3 separate regions of the Homo sapiens genome follow, and regions 2 and 3 are each linked to region 1. Evidence: fine-mapped expression QTL. A gene starts in region 1. Each other region holds a variant in brackets. All regions are shown on one strand. Distances are from middle to middle.

Evidence for each region. PIP is the estimated chance that this variant, and not a neighbour inherited with it, causes the effect.
Region 2: its variant is fine-mapped to the expression of RBL2 in B cells (Fairfax 2012, PIP 0.95).
Region 3: its variant is fine-mapped to the expression of RBL2 in whole blood (TOPMed, PIP above 0.99).

The regions. Positions count from the first base shown.
Region 1 is chr16:53,432,016-53,437,015 of GRCh38, reverse strand. It overlaps RBL2 (RB transcriptional corepressor like 2), which reads right to left and starts at 2,545. Exons shown (of 22, transcript NM_005611.4): 1 at 2,220-2,545. The coding sequence starts at 2,459. RefSeq lists an enhancer at 1,551-1,660 and a silencer at 2,271-2,490.
Region 2 is chr16:52,708,485-52,716,917 of GRCh38, reverse strand. No RefSeq gene overlaps it. Among named protein-coding and RNA genes, the nearest start is that of LINC03064, 110 kb to the right of the region's middle. The variant CTTTCTTTCTT/T (reference allele first, on the strand shown) is at 5,367.
Region 3 is chr16:53,362,762-53,372,866 of GRCh38, reverse strand. It overlaps the pseudogene LOC101929000 and the pseudogene MPHOSPH10P1. Among named protein-coding and RNA genes, the nearest start is that of RBL2, 67 kb to the left of the region's middle. The variant G/T (reference allele first, on the strand shown) is at 2,576.

The sequences.
Region 1 (5,000 bases):
AAAAGAAGAATTAGTCTTGTGAGAATTTTACAGTGCTTAGATGACAAAATGGAGCGCGAAGCTCTTTTAAATAATTTATGCAAAGAGTAGACTCTGTGCCTAGTTTATCTTTGGTCCTAAAAAATATATGTTGAAAATTCCATAATACTAAAAAAGTTATCCTCAAAATTAACATCTCATGGTCACATCTTCTAGGGTCAAATAGATCTGGTTTCAAATTCCGGCTCTGCCATACAGTAGCTATAACACAGTGGGGAAATTACTTAACAGTCTCAGAGGCTGCATTTTCTTGGCTGAGGACTGTGAGAATGAGTTACAGGTTAAAAATGCACAGAAAATACAAGAAATCAAGTTAAAATTCCATAACCAGTATTCTGTATTAAACATCATAAGAGCTTTATTTTCCCTTGCACTCCCATGAGAATGACATCCCATATTGTCACAGCGTACCTCACTGTAAGCCCCACAAGAGCAGGTTTGCTGCTCTATATCCAGCACCTAGAACAATGTGTAGCAAGTAATAGGTGCTCAAGAAATATTTGATGAATATTTTACTGAGTAAATCATTTACTGAATAAACTGGGCTAAGAAGCTGAAACTAAAGTCTCAGTAATCAAAAGAATTGAGTAATCAAACATGTTTTCAAAAATAATTTACTAACCAGCTATTACGTGATACTTGCTCATGTATCACTAGACTTCATACAACTTAACTGCTATGAGTTGAAATACCTCAAATAAATGGCGATAATGCTTGTTCTATCTGATTTACAGGATTATCTTGAGGGTAAAATAAGAGCTTGTTTGGAAGCCTTTAAGGCCATTTACCAAAAAAAAACCCAAAAAACAAAAAACAACATAAAAAGCCAACCAGTCCTTCTCTTTGCCAGACTACAGAAAGGCACTGAGAGATGAATAGGAACATAGCTTACTCAGCCAGATCATGTAAATATACAAAGAGCTTAGTAAACTTGAAAACACTGTCCATATGGGTGCTTTATGTGCCAGAAACTACATTATTGCCTTATTTAATCTTCAGAACAGCTCTGTGAGGTAAACACAAATATCTCCAGTTTAGAGATCACCATACTGAACTTTTCCAGCGGTTTCAGGTCTGTCGGGTTCTAAAGCCACCATACACTATCTTCTGCAGACCTAACAATTCAAAGAGGGAACTAGTAATTGAATTAAAATTCTATTAATGCAAATACAAATTAAAAATAACCTCACTCATCAGTACACATAGCCAAAAACATCATATTTAAATAATACCTTGGTTAGGCTTTGCATCCTGGACCTATTTGCCCGACTCTTTCTACAAATTAATTATAAAACGACTTGAGAAATCAAATGGCCTCAGGTTTAAATGCCACACACACAGTCAAACAGCTGATAAACAATCCGTACTTCCGTGTCACTTCCCATTGGCCCATGAAGGGGAGGTGCATACAAAGCTGACACTCACTGGCTAGAATGGCCATTTTTCTCATCTGCAAGCCCTGTCCGAAGGCTGCGACCTAACACACCCGGATCGCAACAACAACAGGAGTCCTGTGCAATGCCCGGGGTGACCAAAAAGCCCTCGAGGTAGCCACAGTCCTGATCCTAGTGACAAATGGGGGCATGTGTCTACATCCGGGTCGGCGGAGGGCTCATTTCATCTGGCCTGGGGGGAAATGAGTATTAATTTGTTTACACAGACGTAAACACAGCCCAAAACGCATCAGCACGTTGACTCAAACGCCCGCAACGCCAGGGCAAAGGCAATTTGGTTAACAGGGGGAAGCGAACAGACGGAGACGCCTGGAGACCCAGGTGCCACAACCCGGTTAATCGCGGTGCAAATAAGGGCAAGTCCCCTCCCCTTGTCCGTGTGGTCTTGACAACGACACTAGTTCATTCTACTAACAAGGCGGGCGGGGGGTCAGATGGGCCACACACACCCATTTTCCTCAACGGGACCCCAGCGCGATCTCAGCCTTGCTGTGCTACTTTAGGGCAAGACGCGTTCCCCATTCGGAAGCCGCAGGAAAGCGCGGCGAGAGCGGGTTAGCCCTCGGAGCGGCTAAGAGCCTCGGAATAGCGCAGAGGAAGTCCCCACCCCTCTCGGGGCTGGGAGCCCGCAACCCGCCCGAGAGTCTCTCGAGGCGCGCGACGCGGCTCGGAAGGCACCGGTTCACGCCAACTAGGCCGGAAGCGCCCCTCCGCCCGCGAGCGCACCTCCAGCGTGTAGCTTTCGCTCATGCTGCGGTAGCTGTCCCAGGCCTCGGCCCGCGCCGCCTCGTCCATGTTGAGGCGGCTGCACAGCTCGTCGAACCGCTGCTGGATCTGAGGGGTGGGCGACTCGGCAGGCGGCGCGGCGTCTTCCGCCTCGCCGTCGTCCTCCTCCTCCTCATCCGAGGCTGCCGCCGCCGGAGGGGGAGGCGGGGGCGGTGGCGACTGGTCACCTCCCGACGGCATAGCGCACCCCTGGGCGGCCGGACCTCAGGTGAGGTGAGGGCCCGGGCCCGCAGCCATTCAAACGGCGAAGCGCCCGCCCGTCCGCCGCCCGCACCGCGCCTGCGCCGCCGCAAACGACGCTGACCGCCTGCAGGCACCCGTAGTCTTGAGCACGGGCTGCTGGGAAACGTAGTCCAGGCCGGCGGTTCAAGGGGGCCAAAAATCATGTTTAAAAAAATTAGCTCCCCTAGTTTCACCAGGGGTGAAATAAAAGCACCTTCCCCGCATTTTAAACACGTACCTCCCCACCGTGAGAACATTCAACAGGGCTGTACTGACGAGAAAATGTCCAAAAGACACTGACGTGTGAAGGTTTCGTATCCAGGCTGTTCCCAGAAGTAAAACTTCCTCATCGCCTGGATATCCTTATCTAAAAAATAGGGATAATAGCAAGGGCCTGTCTCTGTACGTTCACGAAACTGCCTTTGCAAAAATCCTAACAGTGAGAAAGTTATGACAGTGCAAGGGATCTGACCTAAATGACTCCACGCTTCTCACTTCCGAGCTGCCCTTGTTCATTCCTGGGCGAAGACCTAACTAACTACAGGAGGAATTTAATTTCTAATTTCACTTTGAAACAAAGATTGTAACAGTCCTTTCCAAAAACAAACCCCATTCTTGCCTGGGGATCAGTCTGCCTTTGTAGAACTAACAAATTAGCCACAAGATTAGAAATTATGATTTAGGAGGCTTGCAGCCAGAGGCTATAAGATTCCTGACCTCCCCAATTGCTCTCAGGGATAACATCACTATTGTAAAACCTAAGATTGGTGCTGGAGATACTTTTCAGACCGCGCATTCCGATGCACTAGCTGGCGCCACTCAGACCATAATCTGGCTCAACAAGTTCTGCAATTCCACTCAGTAACAGAAGACAGCAAGAGCCCACTTCAACCCCCTGTGATTTCACCTCCCACCTGACAAATTAGCATTCGCCAATCCCTGGCCCCCTACCCGCCAAGTCATTCTTTAAAAACCCCAGTCTCCGAATTTTCTGGTAGGCTGATTTGAATAACCAAACTCCTGTCTGCCGTTCAGCTGGCTCTGCGTGAATTAAACTTTTTTTTTTTTTTTGAGACAGAGTCTGGCTCTGTTGCCCAGGCTGGAGTGTAGTGGCACGATCTCGGCTCACTGCAACCTCCGCCTCCTGGGTTCAAGCGATTCTCCTGCCTCAGCCTCCTGAGTATCTGGGATTACAGGTGTGCGCCACCGCACCCAGCTAATTTTTGTATTTTCAGTACAGGCAGGGTTTCACCATGTTGGCCAGGCTGGTCTCGAACTCCTGACCTCAAGTGATCCACCCACCTCGGCCTCCCAAAGTTCTGGGATTACAGGCGTGAGCCACCGTGCCCAGCCAATTCATTTTATTTCCAATTCTCCTTTCTTTATTTTAATTTTTTAAATTGCCAATCCTTGATTTATAAATGGGCTTGATATAAAACATTTTCCAGATTGAGGAGCAATCTGAGGATTGAGCAATTTGAGGATTCAGAAGGCATTACTGTTTTGCTATTTTTGTTTTGCTTGGTGGGATATGTAAACTGACAGAGGGAAAAGTGCTGGGACAAAAGTAGGGGCTTATGGAAGGTATAATGACAGGCGGGAGGACAGGAAATGGAACTCTGAAGATAGGAGAAAATCAGGTAGACAGGTAACAGGATATTTCAGGAACAATTTTGAGACAATGGAACCCTCTTAAGAAAACCTTAGTAAAATTCACAGTAATCAGCAATGCTTTTGGAGTTGGCTAAGTGATGAGTCTCAAGGTGACTATGGGGCAAGAACAGAAGTTGAACACAAATGGTTTAGAAGTATCTTAAGTATATAGGCTGGACGTTGTGGATCACACCTGTAAATCCAGCACTTTGGGAGGTCAAGGTGGGAGGACTGCTTGAGTACAGGAGTTCGAGACCAGCCTGGGCGACATAGTGAAACCCTGTCTCTACAAAAAATAGAAAAATTAACCCAGAGTGGTGGTACACGCCTGTAATCCTAGCTACTTGGGAGACTGAGGTGGGAGGAACGCCTAAGCCTGGGGAGTCTGCAGTGAACTGTGACCATGCCACTACAGCTTGGGCAACAGAGACCCTGTCTCAAAAAAATAATAATAAATAATTTGGCAAGGCGCGGTGGCTCACGCCTGTAATCCCTACACTTTGGGAGGCCAAGGCGGGCAGATCACTTAAGGTTAGGAGTTTAAGACCAGCCTGGCAAACATTGTGAAACCCCATTTCTACTAAAAATACAAAAAATTAGCCAGGAGTGGTGGCTGGTGCCAGTAATCCCAGCTACTCAGGAGGCTGAGGCAGGAGAATTGCTGGAACCCAGGAGGCAAAGACTGCAGTTAGCTGGGATCATGCCACTGCACTCCAGCCTGGGCGACAGAGCAACTCCATCTCAATAAATAAATAAATTAATAAATAATAAGTGTATTAAAATCTTAGTATTTTACCTGTATATACACTGGGAATATTGATTTTAAAATAATGATATTTCTTCCTT
Region 2 (8,433 bases), 720 kb after region 1:
GACACTCAAGGATAACCAGGATTTGCTAAAGACAAGTGTTAAAGAAAAAAATTATTCGTTATACTTGTTAAATATGCTACGAAAGACTTTATTCCAGGGGCCTCCTACAATTGGGATTTTGTAGTAAGTGAAAGAGATCAGGCTCACCTTCAAATACAACAAGGAAAAGTGGAAATTCATAGTCAAGAGGGGTAGGGTGAGGTGGGTGTTGATGGATGAAAATTACTATAACGAAACTTCAAGGGTAAATGGGGGATTCTGGCCAAATCTGCCTAACTGGCTTCCTGCTGAAGGCAGGCCAGACATCACCTGGACGATGATGGAGGATGAGAAACCTGAACAGATATAGAGAGTGATCAGATATTGAGGGGAGGGGGTTCTGGCTAAACTGACTCCGCAGGATTCTTGCTAAAATTGAGCTCTTGGGGGATATGCTTAAGGGTGGGATCTAGTTGGAAGCCTGACTAAAGTTTGATCAAGAAGAGAACATTTGTCGCAAGGAGAGAATTGTTGTCATAAGAAAAATCTTTGTCACTTTGAAGGAGATGTTCAGGGAAGAAATGGAAGACATGGGGGTGTTTGCTGAAGACAAACAGTATTTCCATGGAGCACAGCGGTTTTGGGTGGATGGGGCACAGCAGGTAATTACCTCCAAGTAGAGGATGAGGATCCAGGGGACGACGCCCTTGGGAGCTCGAGCTTTGGTGACAACAGAACATCTGTCAGGGTGCCCCAGAAATTTCTTTTTAAATCCTCAATCAATACTGGCCTTGTCCATCAAACTTCTTGCCTTCCCACAAAGTTATTGATGACTACGAGTCAAAAACAATCTTTTTTTTTTGTATGTCCTACTGGGGCAATTTGGCCTCTGCTGTCTTGTCTTTGGCTTTTAGAGTTTTAGTAATACAAATAACTCTTTTGTTGTTGTTTTGTTTTGTTTTTGAGATGGAGTTTCACACTTGTCACCCAGGCTGGAGTGCAATGGCGCCGTCTCGGCTTACTGCAACCTCCGCCTCCCAGGTTCAAGCGATTCTCCTGCCTTAGCCTCCCGGGTAGCTGGGATTACAGGCATCTGCCACCAAGCCCGGCTAATTTTTGTATTTTCAGTAGAGACGAGGTTTCACCATGTTGGCCAGGCTGTTCTCGAGCTCCTGGCCTCAGGTGATCCACCTGCCTCGGCCTCCCAAAGTGCTGGGATTACGGATGTGAGCCACTGCGCCCGGCCGAGAACTCTTATTTAATATTCAGTTTATCTCATTTAATTTTTATGAGAGCCTTATGAAGTAGATATTATTGCCATTACACAGATAAGGAAGCTGAGGCTTAATGAGAAAGAATAAGTTGCTCATAGTCATGTAATTGGTGCATTTGGAATTCAAACTCAGTTTTAACTCCAGGATCAAGGTATTATCCTATGTCCGCTCATCACAGTGGTACAGTTTTTGGTTGTCAGGTCAATATTTATCTCCAAAATAACTCTTGTTCTGATTTTTGAGTGGACATCATCATAAAATCCAACATTAGTAACTCACAGGCTTGTCACATGCCTCTTCCAGAGATCCCTGATCTGGTTCTGAGATCTTCCTTCCCTTGATGAGAACTTCCCTGTAATGAAGCGTATGCTTAGGAAGGGAGAGCAAATTTCTGTCTGTTTTCCATTCTTTTTCTTACAGAAAAATGCTGGGATGAAATTTCTTTGTTGCCAGGTTCTAGAATGAGGTGGCGTCAGCTTGATTTAAAGTGCATGCCATCTGTTTTGTGTCTAAACGTCAAAACCATAGCCTCTGACATTAAAATTCAAGAAAAAAGATTTACCTGATCCTTTGACCTGTAAAAGTACACTGCTTTCAGATTATAGTGTTGAGGCTGTTGGTTCTTTCTTGTAAATTAATATAAAATATTTAAGCTTGCAGCCATCATTTGGGATCCTCTGCTTAAAAGGACGTCATTGTCTGGTTCTTTATTTAATTTTTTTGGATACGATATATTTGTATATATTTATGGGATACATGTGAAATTTTGCTACATGCATAGAATGTGTGATGATCAAGTTAGGGCATTTAGGGTATCTATCACCTGAGTATTTATCTTTTCTATGTGTTGGTAACATTTCCTCTCTTCTGGCAATTTTGAAAAATACAACATATTGTTCTTAACCATAGTCACCCTACTCTGTTATCAAACATGAGAACTTATTCCTTTTATCCAACTGTATGTTTGCAAGCATCGACCAATCTCTGTTCATCCCCCCTCCACCCATTCCCCCTTCCCGGGTAGCTCTTTCACATACACCCAGAGCAACTTACCTTTTCAACTTGAGTATAATCAATTTTTCCGCGACAGGAAGGCAGTCTTAAATGCCTAAATTACCCCACATCCTTACCGTCAATATCTATTTTTAGTAAGAGTTAGTTATTGGGGGAAAATGTGTTGTTTGAGACTCGATCTGACCTGGAAAATGAGGAGGGCGGCTTAGACTGCTTTCACGCCATTTCTCAACAATATTCTTGACACATGTTGAATGGAATAGGACTGTCGTGAGAAAGGGTTATCTCGGTGGAAGATGCCGTGCAGGGAAGCTCATCTGATTTAGAACTTCTCTGGCCATCCAGAAGAGAGTTCAAAAAGAGAAAGAGGGCAGATTGGGAAAGGGGGTTGGAGAGCTAAGATGCAGACTGGGAGCCCAGGAAACCCATCCTGCAGGAGGGATCCAAGCCCCGGCAGAGGGGAGTTCACACCTATCAGGAGCAGATGAAAGCGGTGTTTGATTCTGGATCCTGGCTCTGCTGCTGGCTCTGGTGGCATTATTCATTTAGTGCCGTTCCATACTTCGCAGGAAAAGCACAGCAGGCTTATAATGCTTGAGTTTTTAAACATTCAGAGGACTGTGATGCTATAAATAAACTTCCTGTGTCAGAGATTAAATCAACCAAGATGCCTGCCATGCCAACTTTATTTCTGAAACAACGTGTTTTCAACAGAAATCAAAATACATGTTAATCCTTCCCTTCTGACAGGCTAATATGAGCCTTGCAAATCACAGTGGAGAGCTACCTAGAGGACGTTAAGTAGCAGAAGCCGTGTCTGCACGGCTTATCTGTTGGAGAAGTCTGCGGCCATCCCTTGATTTGGAAGTTTTCTGCCTGGACTTGTGGCTTGGGTCTGCAGAATCAGGTTCAGACTGGACTGTTTTTATCAGAAAAGACTTGGCTATTGTGTTTTGGCTAAAACAATGCAGAGGTTGTGTCTTTGAGAAGAGTAATAACAGGTTAGCAGACAGCCGTCCAGTTCAACACCTATTCTCCTTTCTTTGGGTAACAGCACCCTGATTTACTATTCTCCTTTCTTTGGGTAACAGCATCCTGATTTACTATTCTCCTTTCTTTGGGTAACAGCACCCTAATTTACTCTGAGTAACCATCATCCTTCAACCACTCTTATTCCATGAGGTTCTGTGTGGGGGACTCCATCCCCAGCCCCTAAGGCTGGGCTCTGGGCTAACCAATCAGAGCCATCCACCTCCTTCCTTGGCCATCGAAATTGGTTCCAAGGTGAGGCAATGTCCAAAGTGGGATGATGGTGTGAATTTTGACCCTTGGCTGGAACTCCTGAGAAAGGGAAGCTCCTCTTTTGCTGGGGTGGCTAGCTTAGCACTGCCGAAATTCATCACTGTGACCTGATCACCTGAGATTGATGCCCACTCAGAGTAAAGCAGAGATGAGAGACAGAGACAGATTCCTGATGATATTGTTGGAGCACCTGAATAAAGCCCTGCTTGAAATTAGAAGCCCTCCTGGACTTGTTTGCATGATTAGATTCTATTCTTTTCCATTGAGAATGAGCTGGCTTTCCGTTACCTGAAATTGAAATAGTCCTGATTAATTCAGTGGTCCAGCTGGTGAATTCAGCCAACTGGTCAATTCTGTGACAAAAGGTATTTATGGATTTATCAACTTGTTGTTAGATTAGATTTATTCTAACTTAGTGAGATTGATGGTAGGGCAGCCCAGGGCCGGCTCAGCTCTAGGTAAATAGTGTGGCCATAGGATCCCCAGCAGAGACAAAGAGTGGCCCTGAAAAGCTGGGTATGGCAGCTGGTGAGTTTCAGCTGGAGGCTGTGTTTCTAGAGAGAAGTGGCCTCCCATCAGGGATCCTTGGCCTTCTGAGTACCTTTAAGGATGTGAGGAGGCTGTATTCTTCTCCCTAGAGAGATTTACACATGCCTTTTCCCACCAAGTTTTCCACGTAATTTTAGGTGATTCTCTGAATTGCAGAAAGCCAGCCATGGGCCCCTTGGGGATTCCAGGTTATACAGTAGGAACCTGGACAGGTGACTTGCTTTTTACATCTTACAGGGTCTCTCATGGATGCTACAAATATGCTGGCTAAGATTTTTGAGTACTCACCAGGTCTCAGCCACTACACTTAACATGTAGTATTTACCTATATTTTTACAATGACCCTATTGGGTAGATGTTATCATTATCCTAACTTTACAAATGAATAATTTAAAAGATGAAAAAGTTAGGTATCTTGCTCAAGGTCACCCAGCTTATAAGTGAGTAAAATTTAAATCTCAGTCTAGAAGACACAAGAGACCACATTCTAAATCACTTTAGTGACTTTAGAAATTACTAATGGATCACAGTGACTACCAGTCCATAATAATTTGGATCCTTACATCTAACTTAAATCCATCACGATGTAGTGTAAACCCATTGCTTCTTGTAAGTCACATGGTATTAGATTGTGCCAATCTCAAAACAGGCAAGTGATTTACAGTAAATTAGTATCTGAGACTCAGGTTCTTTATATGGGAATCATGGTTAGTAAATTATTATTTTATTTTTTCATTTTCTTTACTTTGTCAAATTTTTGAAAATTACAAAAGAAAAACATGCTTATAAAAACTTGACACAGAAATAGAGAGCAGTGAGTAGGAGCAGCATGAAAATTCCCCTCAGTGGCTTCTGCTATGGATTAGTTTTAAACTTGGGTGTATAATCTGCCAAACTGTGTCCATGGATTTATACAGTCTTCTTACAACATGTGTAAAGAGTTTCTTTTACTTTTTCCAGTTTTATTGAGGTATTATTGACAAGTAAAAATTGTATATACTGAAAGTGTGTAACTTGATGTTTTGATATACATATACATTGTAAAATAATCACCATAATAAAATTAATTAACATATCCAGTACCTCACATAATTACCATTTCCTTCCTTCCTTCATTCCTTCCTTCCTTTCTCTTCTCTTCAATTTTTTCTTTCTTTCTTTCTTTCCTTTTTCTTTCTTTTTCTGTCTTTCCCTTTCTTTCTTTTTCTTTCTTTCTTTCTTTCTTTCTTTCTTTCTTTCTTTCTTTCT[CTTTCTTTCTT/T]TCTCTTTCTTTCTCCTTCTTTCTTTCTTTCTTTCTTTCTTTCTTTCTTTCTTTTTCTTTCTTTCTTTCTTTCTTTCTTCTTTCCTTGTGACAACACTTAAGATCTACTCTCAGTAAATCTCAAGTATACAATACAGTATTGCTAACTATAGTCACATTGCTTATACAGTTTATTTTAAAACAAAAATAGAATCATATTTTGGCATCTTTCCATGTCAGGGTACATATAGATCTACTATTGCGCTTTTGATAACTACATTTAATCCACAAATATGAGCATATGTATTTAGTATTGTCATTCCCTGACTGATGGACATTTCAGTTGCCTCCATTTAAAAAAAAAACTATTATTTTAAATTCTGCTGCAGTGAATACACTTGTGTATATATCTTTGCCACAAGGCTAAATATTTCTATAAAACAGATCTCTAGAAGTAGAATTGCAGGGGCTAGCACACTTCTCTATTTTAAAGTAAATGCATGAAAGACCATTTTTAGCACCATTAAAGGGATTCCAGTGAAATATCCTAGAGCTTGTTAAGTTTGTCTGTTTTTCCTGTGCTTAGGATCATTTGGGCACGGAGACAACGTGCCTTCTTGGTTGTACTGGTTGTCACACTCCCGCTGGAGCCTCCTTTATATTCAAGAGCTCCTCTGAGTCCCGTCTTCCCTTGAGCGGTCCAGGGCTTAGGTTTATTGTGGCAGATTTGGAGCCAGCTTCCCAAGCCGTGCACATCTGCCCTCTGAACACATGCTGGCTACCTGCAGACATCAGCTGGGGCTTGGGAGCCACTGCCCAACAAGCAGTGACTGGTTGTATCCTCAGCGATACCCACAGCCAAAGTCTGAAACCACTGTCTGTTAAGAGTACATGGGATCCAGAAGAATGGTTGCCTGAAATGGAGAGGCTGAAGGCTTACAGCCTTTGACAAAATCTCATTAATTGGTTCATTCCTTTAACAACTATTTTTTGAGCCTTTACTATGAGCCAAGCACTGTGGCCAGAGTTAGAGATACCAGAGGTCACCAAAAACACATACGGCGACCCTTCTCTCGTGGTGACTCTAAAACATGCCAGTTAGGTATATTCTCTTCTCCTGTACACGTCTGGTTTTATGTCTGGGAAACACTTTAAATGAAAAGTAGATTTGAAAAGGTATTTTAGAAGCCAGAACGAATCAACCCAAGCTGGGTGACGACAAAACTTCCTTAAAAACTGCAGCAGAGAGTTGGCAGGACACTGGGATAAAAAAATAAATCAAATGCTGTTAATCATTTTGCCTCCATCTCCTTCTCCTCCCTCCTGTAGCGTTGTTTCCTCCACCCCGGCTGAGTGAACTATGTGACCACTTTACTCCCAGCACAGCTGATTGGACCAGGACTGAAGCCCTGATTCAGGCTCAGTCAATCAGATCCTCTCTTGGGGTGCTGATTTTGTAACGTCATGACCCAGGACAGGTTTTTTAGGGCAGCCTAATTGGAAAGCATTACAAAGGTGGAACCCATGGTGAGATGGAGCAGAGAGGACCACACTGCAGAGAAAGCGAGAATTAAACTGGTAAAAGGAAAGAAGCAGGGAAGCAAACCATGAAGCTTCTGAAAGAAACAGAGCTGGAGCGAGTATCTCCCTTTATGTCAGAATTATCTCCAGAGATCCAGAGCACTTCTTATTCTTGGATTCCCTGAGCCTTCCAACCATTCCAACAAATCCCCATTTTTTCTTGAGCTAACCTGATGGCTCCTCTTTCTGATAACCACCCTCATCCTCTGGGATAAGACAGTATTTGCCTCCTTCTTTGTACTATTGAGAAAAAGAGCAATAGAGAAGCTTCTTTTCATCCTGTTCCTCAAGGCTGAACTTGATATGTTCTTGGGAGATATATTCTTTCTGACTCTATCTGCCATTTTTCGAATGGCCTGATTGTTTTGGAGACATGATGAACTCTGTCCTCAGGGACTCCCTAACGAAGGCTCAGCTTGGAGAATTCATGAATCCATTTGTTCATCAATTAGGGAGCCCTGGAAGCAGACACACTGGGCGAGAGGCTCCTCACTGCTCTCTGCTGGGTGGAGATGGGAGACCAGGCACATCCCCTAGAGAAGCTTCCCCAGAAATGTGGCTCACTGTGGAGGCCAATGAAGCCTCTGCTATTTTCCCCTGGAGAAACTGACAACATGGACAAGCCTGTGTAACCAGAATTATAATGTAAATCCAAGCCTAGAGACTCAAAGTCAGTGAGGAAATAAGCAAATTCCCAAAGAGTTTCTGATCACTGGGTGGTGGTGGAGAGCAGGGAACACAGGACTGTCCAGAAAAATACTTCCCTGACTAGGGAACCCCAGAGAGATGAAAACAAATTCCTATTTTTGCTTTAATTACACACAAATGTACGCATACACAAACACACATGTAAAAAATTTTATTGCTGGATCACTGTGGAGTGAAACAGATACACACTTATCATAGGAAAGCTGGAAGAACCTGGATTAAAAAGAGTGGCTTGTGTGGCTGGGTGAGTTAACAGTTAGGTTCAGTATCCCCATGAGAATCTCTGCCAAGATGAATCTCTCCTTTTCCCAGAAGCTTTGAAAGAAACAAAAACTTAATAATCTTAATAGACGAATTTGACTCAAAAGACCTGTTAAAGGACAGGGAAGCATCTTCTCTTGTCTCCCCAACCCCGACTGCCTTGTCCTTTGCCCATGCCAGTTGACAACACAAACCCCCTCTCTCTACTCCCCTTGAGGATTCAGCCTGGATGCCTTTGCCCCCTAAATTTCCATTGCCTCTAGGTCTCCTTTGTGGTTTTTCTCACTCAAACTGGCATTTTGCATACAGTGGAGAGCAGCAGGGAACTCAGGCTGGCATTAGGAGCAAATCTGGTTTCTTTCTTTGTCTTTATTCCTCCACTCCCTTCCCCCCACCCCACCACCCCCTTCCTTTAGATAGGCGCCTTCAGCTGTGTATAAATTAAGCACATTCTTCTGCCTTTGCAGGTCACATCTGGGATATTCTGGACATCTCTGGTATAAACCCTAAATTTATGAAACCAGTAAT
Region 3 (10,105 bases), 67 kb after region 1:
GATTATACTTTCCTAGGCTATCACAATTTTCAAAATTGTTAAAATTTTTACAGTATGGCTCTCTCAGTTGAATGTTATTGAAATCCACCAAATAACCTCAGTTATTAACGCCTAGAAGCTCCCCTGGAGGCTTATTACTGCCGCCATACCCCTACACACAAACTGTTTTGGTTTCTCCTTCCGCCTATGTACTCCTAAAGCACTCAGTATTTACCTGTCATCATACTTTATTGAAAGTACAAACTCGTCACTTGTCTGTCCACCCCAACTAAGCTTCTTGAGAATTAGAACTTTCCTGTCTCTTCCCAGCACAAAAGTTTTATGGGTATTCTGTTGAAGAACTTCAAATATGATCTATAAAATTATGACTCATTTATATTTCAAACTCCAACCTCTCCCTTGAGTTCCTGGCTCACAGCGACTACAGACTGAGCTTAGTTGGAATTCAGTAGCACACAACTGGGATATCCGCACTGTACGGCTTTTAACAATTTTTAAAATTTTGGTACTCTCAGCATCGCAAATTCACTGTGTCCAAAATAGAGTAGAATGTTGTTCTACCCACCTATACTCTGCCATCCGCTGAAGTCCTTTCCCCATGCTCCAGCACTCAAGCCTTGCCTGTCACAGTAAATGGCAGTTCTGTCTTTCCTGTTGCTCACACATAAAACTAGGCTGCTATTTTGATGTCTTCATTTTTCTCTATTCTGTATCTAATTCCTTAGCAATCCTGTCAGTTCTACCTCCAGACTGTACTCAGCATATTCACTGCTCTAACTCCAGCTTAAATCACCATCATCCTTTGCCTGGAATGCTGCATCAACCTTCTAATCACTCTACTTTCCTCCTCCTCCTTCCTCCCTTTCTTCTTCCTTCTTGTAAATCATCATTTCATCCTTCTGCTTAAAATCTTCTCATGTTTTCTTATTACACTTAAAATGGCAAACTCTTACCCTTGAGCCCTGTAGAATTTGGCTCCCATCAGTTTCTCCAATTTCACCTTCTGCCTCCTTCACACTCTAGCTGTGCTCACTTTTTTATTCCTCAGGCCTACCAAGCTCAATTGCATCTTAGAGAATTTGTTCTTGCTGTTTCTTCTGCCTGGAATACATGTTTCCCAATCTTTATAAGACTATCCTTATCTGTAGGTTTCATCTGAGATGTCACATCCAAAAGAGGTTTTCCTTGACCACTGTAGCCAAAGCAAATGTTGATCACTGAAGGAATAAGGGAATGAATGAATGGAGTGGTGTATAATATAGCAGAGTTGATAATTTAAGGCTAATTCACTATGTATCTCCAAGCAAACAGATTTGTAATGCTTTTCCTGCCTAAAATCTATACAGCTGATTCACAAATACTTGATTGACAGGTTTTATATATCACTGTGGCTCATCAGCTTGTATGTTGTTGGGGCCAGAATCTATACTTACACTTCATTCAAATTTGATTTTACAGAAGAGTTGGGGTTTTTATTTTTCTTTTAATTAAGAGAGCTGTGAAATTATTACCTATAATTCTAAATCTCATTTAATTCCTCCCAATAGGATTCAAGATGGATTGTCATCAAAGTTCACTTCTTTAACAAAAGTGGTTTATGACTTTAATAAAATATTAGAGAATGGAAGGATCTGTGGAAGCCCTTTACAAAAACTTGTGATAGAAAGTTTTGATGATGAGCAGACTTTGCAACAACTGGAATTGCAAAATGAACCAATTTTACAATGCTTCCAAAATGCAGTTAGTGAAACAAAGATGAAGACATCAGTCTTCTCCCAGAGAGTGAAGAACAGGAGTGTGAAGAGGATGGTTCAGAGACAGAGACTGGTGGCCAGGAGGACCTAGAAGATTTACAGGAGGAAGAGGAAGTGTCAGATATGGGTGGTGACAATCCTGAAGTGGGCAAGAAAGCTAGAAACTCAAGCAAATTTGAGCTGAGGAAAAGCCCAGTTTTCAGTGATGAGGATTCTGACCTTGACTTTGATATCAGCAAATTGGAACAGCAGAGCAAGGTGCAAAACACAGGACATGGAAAACCAAGAGAAAAGTCCATAATAGACGAGAAATTCTTCCAACTCTCTGAAATGGAGGCTTATTTAGAAAACAGAGAAAAAGAAGAGGAACGAAAAGATGATAATGATGATGAGGTGGAAGATACTGATTTTTTTTTGAAGATATTGATTCTGATGAAGATAAAAGGGGACTGTTTGGAAGTAAAAAACTTAAGGTTAAGTTTGAGAAAGGAGAGAGCACTTTCCTCCTCCTCAAATTAGCTTTTGTTCTGTTTTTCTAGGAGAGATGTAATTGTAGTTAGAAGGTTTAGAGCTAAGATATATTATGCTTTGTTTTATCAGTTATAAATGAATCTGTACTTCCATTCAGTTTATGTTCCAGTTGTTCTTATAATAGTTTTATGGTAGTGTTTTTAGTTGCCAATTTCACCTAGTAACTATTTTTGACTTGTAGTGTTAAGTTAGAAAGTAATATAGACATACAGTATATATATATGCATGTGTTAATGATGTATTTTTCTATTCCTAATTAATAGTTTTAAAAATCTTTTTATTTTAGTCAG[G/T]TAAAAGTTCCAGAAATGTGAACAACAAAGATTTTTTTGATCCAGTTGAAAGTGATGAAGACATAGCAAGTGATCATGATGATGAGCTGGGTTCAAACAAGATGATGAAATTGCTGAAGAAGAAGCAGAAGAAGGAAGCATTTCTGAAATGTGAGTATTTTGAAACATCCTTTACTTTGTGAGCTGGAATTGCCCAATCAGTGTTTGTATTTGTGGTTTTCACATATGTTTGTTTTAAGAAGTTAGATACTCTCCTATCAGATCTTCTCAAGATAGCCAGAGGAAAGTCACTGGATTTAAACGGACATTAGAGATCATTTAATGAAGAAAAATATTACTGACAGTAGCAATCAAACCTTTCTTACCAGGAACTTTGATTTGGTTTTGTGCCCCCAAAATCCTGTTATTTTTGTGAGATAAGAGGTTTGTATTATAGATTGATGAATAATTTATTTTCTATATATTGGACCCTTTTTGTTTCTTACATAGCATTTCACTTAAATGATAGCTTCTCTTCCTTAATACCTGAATGATTTTGGAAGTTCTAAGTATCTGGTTGCATTAGGCATATAAAAGAGGAACTTTGTTAAGGGAAAATATGTTTCCTTTTGTTTTTCTAATGGAAAACAATATATTTCTTTTTATAAGAGTTTTGGTAGTGTAGGGATGAAGGTGATCACCTGGAAGAAAGAGAAGACAGTAAACAATGTAAAGAAAGCTTGAAAAGAGTGACTTTTGCTTTGCCGGATGATGAGGCAACTGAAGATGCAGGTGTTTTAAATGTAAAGAAAAATTCTGATGAAGTTAATCTTCTTTTGAAAAAAGACAGGAAAAGGTAATTAGGAATTTAAGGAATTTTTAATATGCTTCGCATGATTGTGGAACTCACAGACTACTAACAAATCTTCCCTATTTTCTTTCTTTTTTTTTTGAGATGGAGTCTTGCTCTGTCACCCAGGCTGGAGTGCAATGGCGTGATCTCGGCTCACTGCAGCCTCCACCTCCCGGGTTCAAGTGATTCTGCCTCAGCCTCCTGAGTAGCTGAGATTAAAGGTGCATTCCACCATGCCTGGCCAATTTTTGTATTTTTAGAAGACATGGGGTTTCACCGTGTTGGCCAGGCTGATCTCGAACTCCTGACCTCAGGTGATCCTCCTGCCTTGGCCTCCCAAAGTGCTGAGATTACAGGCGTGAGCCACTGTGCCCTAGCCTTCCCTATTTTTCTTGTTGTAACTATTAACCATCCTTTGAAAACAAATATCTTGGCCAGGTGTGGTGGTTGATGCCTGTAATCCTAGCACTTTGGTAGTCTGAAGCGGGAGGATCACTTGAGCTCAGGAGTTCAAGACCAGCCTGGGCAACATAGTGAGGCCCTGTCTCTACAAAAAATAAAAAAATTAGTGGGGCATGGTGGTGTATGCCTGTAATCCAGCGACTCAGGTGGCTGAGGCGGGAGGATCACTTGAGCCCAGGAGGTTGATGCTGCAGTGAGCTATGATCACATCACTGCTTTCCAGCCTGGGTGGTGGAGCAAGATCCTGTCTTCAAACAAACAAACAAACAAACAAACAGAAAACTGAAGATCTTGCTGCTACTCTCTAAAGCAAAAGCACATCTTATAGAGATGCCATATGGAAAGCATCTGATTTGCAGAAATCAGTGCCTGCGTTACCCAGCCTATAGCTTTCAATTTGGGGCCTGCGTGTAAAATAGTTGTTTCTTTTCTCTCTCCCTTGTGTCTTTATATGTATAGCCTGTCTCTCCTGACAAAGCTGTCCTGAGAGCCTCTTCTTGTAACTGTTTTGACTGCTCTAGAGGATACCGCCTATGTCTTTAAGGTGCTCCACAGATTTTGGTGAATGTCAAATAGCTGTAATTTTAATTAATACCAGGACAAACATATCTTCCCAAAGTATGTCATGATTTCAGACAAGTGAAATCTCATTAATTTTAGTAGATATAGTCTGGCTCCAATAATTTGGCTATATTATTTATCCAATCCCAAAATTTTATTATAATAAAAATGAGAATAGTGCCAGGCACAGTAGCTCACACTTGTAATCCCAGCACTTTGGGAGACTGAGGAGGGAGGATTGCTTGAGCCCAAGTGTTCAAGACCAGCATGGACAACACGGTGAAACCCCGTCTCCACTACAAATTTAAAAAATTAGCTGGGTGTGGTAGCATGAGCCTATAGTCTCTGCTACTCGAGAGGCTTATCGGGGATGATCACTTGAGTCCAGCAGTTCAAGGCTGCAGTGAGCTATGATTGGACTAGGCACTCCAGCCTGGGCAACAGAGCTGGAGAACAGGCAAATAAACTATACCAAGAATATCAAAAGAATTATTTTTAAAATCTGCGAATCTAAATTAAATTCATCGTTGTCAGATTGTCCCAAGAAAATAAATTCTAAAGGGGGAAAAAAACCATAAAGTATCAATGAGTTAGTGTCCTCCCATCCCACTCCTCCCACCCTTCCCCCACAAAAAAGAAAGAAAGGTTTGGTTTTGCTTTGAAATTATATCAGACCTTCAAGTGAAATTTTCAGTAAATCACAAATAATTTATTGCAATTTCCACAGATAAAGAATAAAATAGAACTTTCAAACTTTTTTCTTTTCAAACTGTTAGAACATGAAAACCCAAACCTGACAAAGGTGGCGTTAAAACACACACACTCTCTCATTCATGACTAGTGATGCAAACATAGCACAGTGGGAAAATTATGCCACACAACCACATGAACCTTATCCTTTTGAATCACTATTAGAAGATCTGATATGATTCCTGGTTGCAAGACGTTAAGGAGAAAATACACGGTTCCCTCCATATATGTTAGAAAGACATTTGATAAAATTCAATATTTATTTCTGATTTTTTTTTAACTCCTAGTGGGTTATAAATACATCTAGCCAAAAGCTGCCATCATGCATGATGGGTGAAATTCTACAAACATCCCTTTAAGATCAGGAATAAGACAAAATGTCCAGTATTACAGTTACCCCTGTTAATTAACACTAACAGTTAATAGCCACATAAGCCAGTGCAACTACAAAAGATAAGAGATTAGGAAAACTTCCAGGAGCAGTGGTTCACACCTGTAATCCCAGCACTTTGGGAGCTCAGGAGCTCTCAGCACTTGAGCTCAGGAGTTTGAGACCAGCCCAGGCAACATGGTGAGACCTCATCTCTGCAAAAAAATACAAAATTAGCTGGGCGCGTTACATGTGCCTGTGTCCCAGCTACTTGGGAGTCTGAAGTGAGAGGACTGCTTGAGCCTGGGAGATGGAGGTTGCAATGAGCTGAGATAGTGCAGCTGTACTCCAGCCTGGGCAACAGAGCGAGACTCTGTCTCAAAAAAAAAAAAAAAAAAAAAAAGATTAGGGATACTAAAATGAAAACATTAGTGTTTGGAGAGAAAACCGAAAGGATAAACTGAATCAATATTAGGAAAATAAGAGAATTCTGTAAGTTAGCTGAAAAAGCTGGCATTTTATACACTGAAGTCATAATTGTTGTCTTTTAGAAGTTAGAGATAATAAGAATTTGAGTTTAAAGTCAAAAGGGTCAGACTCCATCAAATACTAATATCCTAATCAAAGAATTACTTGGCCAGGTGTGGTGGCTCACGCCTGTAATCTCAGCACTTTGGGAGGCCAAGGTGGGTGGATCACGAGGTCAGGAGATCAAGACCATCCTGGCTAACATGATGAAACCCCATCTCTACTAAAAATACAAAAAATTAGCCAGGCGTGGTGGCGGGTGCCTGTAGTCCCAGCTACTCCAGAGGCTGAGGCAGGAGAATGGCTTGAACCCGGGAGGAGGAGCTTGCAGTGAGCTGAGATCATGCCACTGCACTCCAGCCTGGCCAACAGAGTGAGAGACTCCATCTAAAAAAAAAAAAAAAAAAAGAATTACTTAACTTTAGGATGCTCTAATAATCAAAATTGATAGTGGCTTGTGAACAGATAGATCACTTGAATAGAATAGAGCCCAGAAATAAACCCAAATGCTTCTGAGGGAGTTTAGTATATTATAAACATGAAATTTTAAATAAATGAGGATAAGAAATTATTTGCAGCTCACCTCACCATAGGCAGCAGGAATAGGAGGTCATTGGCAGAATAAAAAGATGGTAAGAACAGAACAGAATTATAGAACAGTACATTTTTTGCTTCCCCACTTTTCAAAGTATTTTTTGTTTTTACACAAGTATAATTTTATTTTCTAAATGTATACTAATTTTTTTGTCTCTTTCTTAGATGAATGAAAAAAATTACATCTTTAGAAAAAGAGTTATTAGAAAAAAGCCTTGGCAGCGTCGGGGGGAAGTGACAGCACAGAAGAGACCAGAGAATAGCTTCCTGGAGGAGACCCTGCACTTTAACCATGCTGTCTGGATGGGTACAGTGCCCTCTTCTGCAAAGAGTTCACTTCTATGCTTTTTCTGTGGTTCCATTTCATAGAAAGATTTGGGGCGATGTTTCTTTTCCCTTAACTTTTTATTTTAAAAACTTGCAAACACAGAAAAGTTGATAAAATCATACAGTGAACATCTGTATTCTATTCAACTGGATTCACTAGTTCACATTTTGTCATATTTGTGTTCTCTTTTCCCCATATGGAAGATTGTATATTTGCCCTTTTTCCCCCTGAATCATTTCAAAGTAAGTTGCCAGTATCATAGCATTTCACTGTTAAGTACTTTTGCAGATATCTCCTAAGAACCAGGATATTCTCCTATATAATCACAATACCATTAATCCACCCAAAACATTTAACATCAGTACACTAATGATACCTACTGTATAGATTATAATCAGCTTCCTTGCAGTAATCTGTTTAGAAGACTTGCATCCTGTCACTGTCCACTGATTAAATTTTGAACTCTTAACTTGAAACCCTGGTCATCTCATTGCCTTCTTTTTTATACCCATTAAGTCAAAATAAGTTTTCATTTTATTTCAACAGAAAAGAGAATGGAAAAGAGGGGAAGAGTCCCTGGTACCTTGGATAAAGTATGAGCACTTACTACCATATGTATTCTAGTTCTGTAGTTTTCAAACTTCAGGGAGCATCTCAAGGCTTATTAAAGCACAGATAGCTGTCCCTCTTCCCCACTTTCTGATTCAGGAAGTGTGGGGCTGGTCCAGGAATTTGCATGTCTAACAGGTTCCCACGTGTTGCTGATGCTGAGGGTCTAAGGACTACAATGCGAGAATCAGTGGTTTAGTGGATATCTATCTAATGAATACATGTTATATTTCCTTTAGCACTTGTGATTACAGGGGAAACACCTTTCAACTGTAATCAGTTATTACAGTTATTATTATTAACTGTAATATATTAACTGTAATTATTATTAACTGTATATTATACAGTTAATAATATATATTAACTGTATGTTATACAGTTAATAATATATATTAACTGTATATATAACTGTATATTAACTGTATATTATTATTAACTGTAATATATTAACTGTAATCTGTTAATATATCATTAAACAGAAGATAAGAGATCAGGTCAGTAAGAATTAAATTTAACTTAATTGAAATGTCACTGAAATTTTTAAAAATAATATGACAGGCTAGGCACAGTGGCTCATGCCTGTAATCCCAGCACTTTGGGAGGCCAAGGCAGATGGATCACTTGAGGTCAGGAGTTCGAGACCAGCCTGTCCAAGATGGTAAAACTCCCTCTCTACTAAAAATACAAAAATTAGCTGGGCATGGTGGTGCATGCCTGTAGTCCCAGCTACTCAGGAGGCTGAAGCAGGGGAATCGCTTGAACTCAGAAGATGGAGGTTGCAGTGAGCTGAGATGCGCCACTGCACTCCAGCCTGGGCAACAGAGCGAGACTCCATCTCAAAATAAATACATAAATAAATAAAATAAAAAGAAAAAATAAAGGGAAGATGGGGCAGTTTTGTGAACTGCACGTCCTGAAACTGGGCTGATTTCCCTCAAGAGGCAGGGATTTAAGCTCATCTCATCTCAACCTGGGGTAATTTGAGTGCCACAGGATAAATATGGGGCATCTTTCTGAAGCATCAGTTTCCCTTGATTCTATTGAGAGACAAAACATTAATGTACTTAGGCATGACAGTCACATAGATTTATGAGTATACAAGACTTCTCTCTGAAATGAGGCTTGGGTTATCCTCTTTCTGTTAAATTCCCAGATTTAACAGAAAGGCTGCCTTCTGCCATGAGGATACATTGATGTAAAAGTTTGAGAGGTACTGGTGCACTTCTTAACACTAACAGATGTGTGAGGGTGTATGGCTCTAAACCACACAGTATACAGTTTCTGCCTACTTAATATTTGCTTTTCTACCTCTGCCTCTGGTTTTGGTCCCTGGCAGCTGCTGATTTGTGGCAAAATCCTGGAGCTCGGAGTCAGAAGACTGAGTTTAAGTTCCATTATTGCCTTTTTTTCAGCCATGGTATCAATCCCTCTCAGTCACTAAGTGATTGTGACAACACTTCCTACAGTTCTTGGTGGCATTAAATCAGATGGTCTATAATAGTATTTTGTATAAACTGTAAAGCAGGATGTGACTGTAGGAGCTTGTAGCTCTCATGAGTATCACTGCTCTTCCTTTCCACAGTTGAGAGACTCTCCTCCCCAGACCAGCCCTAGTGTTGGTACAGGAGCAACCGACACCAAAAAGAAGAAAATAAATAATGGCACTAACCCTGAGACAACCACTTCTGGTGGTTGCCACTCACCTGAGGATGTGAGTCTTGGCTGGCCAGGCTCCTGGAGACAGAGGGCCCAAGGGGTGGTGGAGGGTAATTGTTAAGATTGTGGAAGAACTGCCAGGTACCGGTTAAGAATTCTGGGTTTGAATCCTGCCTCTCCATCTGCTAGGGATATGATTTAGGGCAAATTGCTTGAGCTCTTTGGGCCTCTCTTTTCACATCTGTAAAATAGGAGTGGTATTGTTTTCCTTACATTTGTGAAGTTTAAATGAGATTTGTCATTGTTGTTTTTATGTTAATCCCTAGTCCAGGCCCTGCTGTAAACTATCCTTCTTGGGCTTGCGTTTCCTGAGGTAGAGTTAGAGAGTATCAGAGGTTTCTGTTAGCTCTGAGAGTCTGAGAGTTAAAGGCTGACTAGAATGGAAACCCTGGGGCCAAGGGCTCCTGTCTGCCTTTTCCGTCCTATATCCTTCCTGTGAAGAACAGTCCCTGGCCAGTATGTGCTCAGTCAATGTTTGTTGAGTGAATGCATCTTTCTAAATCACAAGCTGGCAGAAGGGTGGGCTTTTCTCACACTCTATCTCTGAAGGTTTATGTTACTGTCTTTTTGAGAGAATCTAGTTTCAGACTTTCAGTTCTGTGGCTGTGGGCAAAAACCAACAAAGACCCAAATCCTTTTTCTTTGGGAGTTGAGGAGAGTTTACCAGTTCATGTTCCCATTGGGTCTGAGAACTTTGCCTTTAAAATCCATTCCTGGCCCCTGCCTATGGCTTCCTGGCCTGGGGAATAGAGTCAAGGGAGCCACCCTCAGTCGCATTCC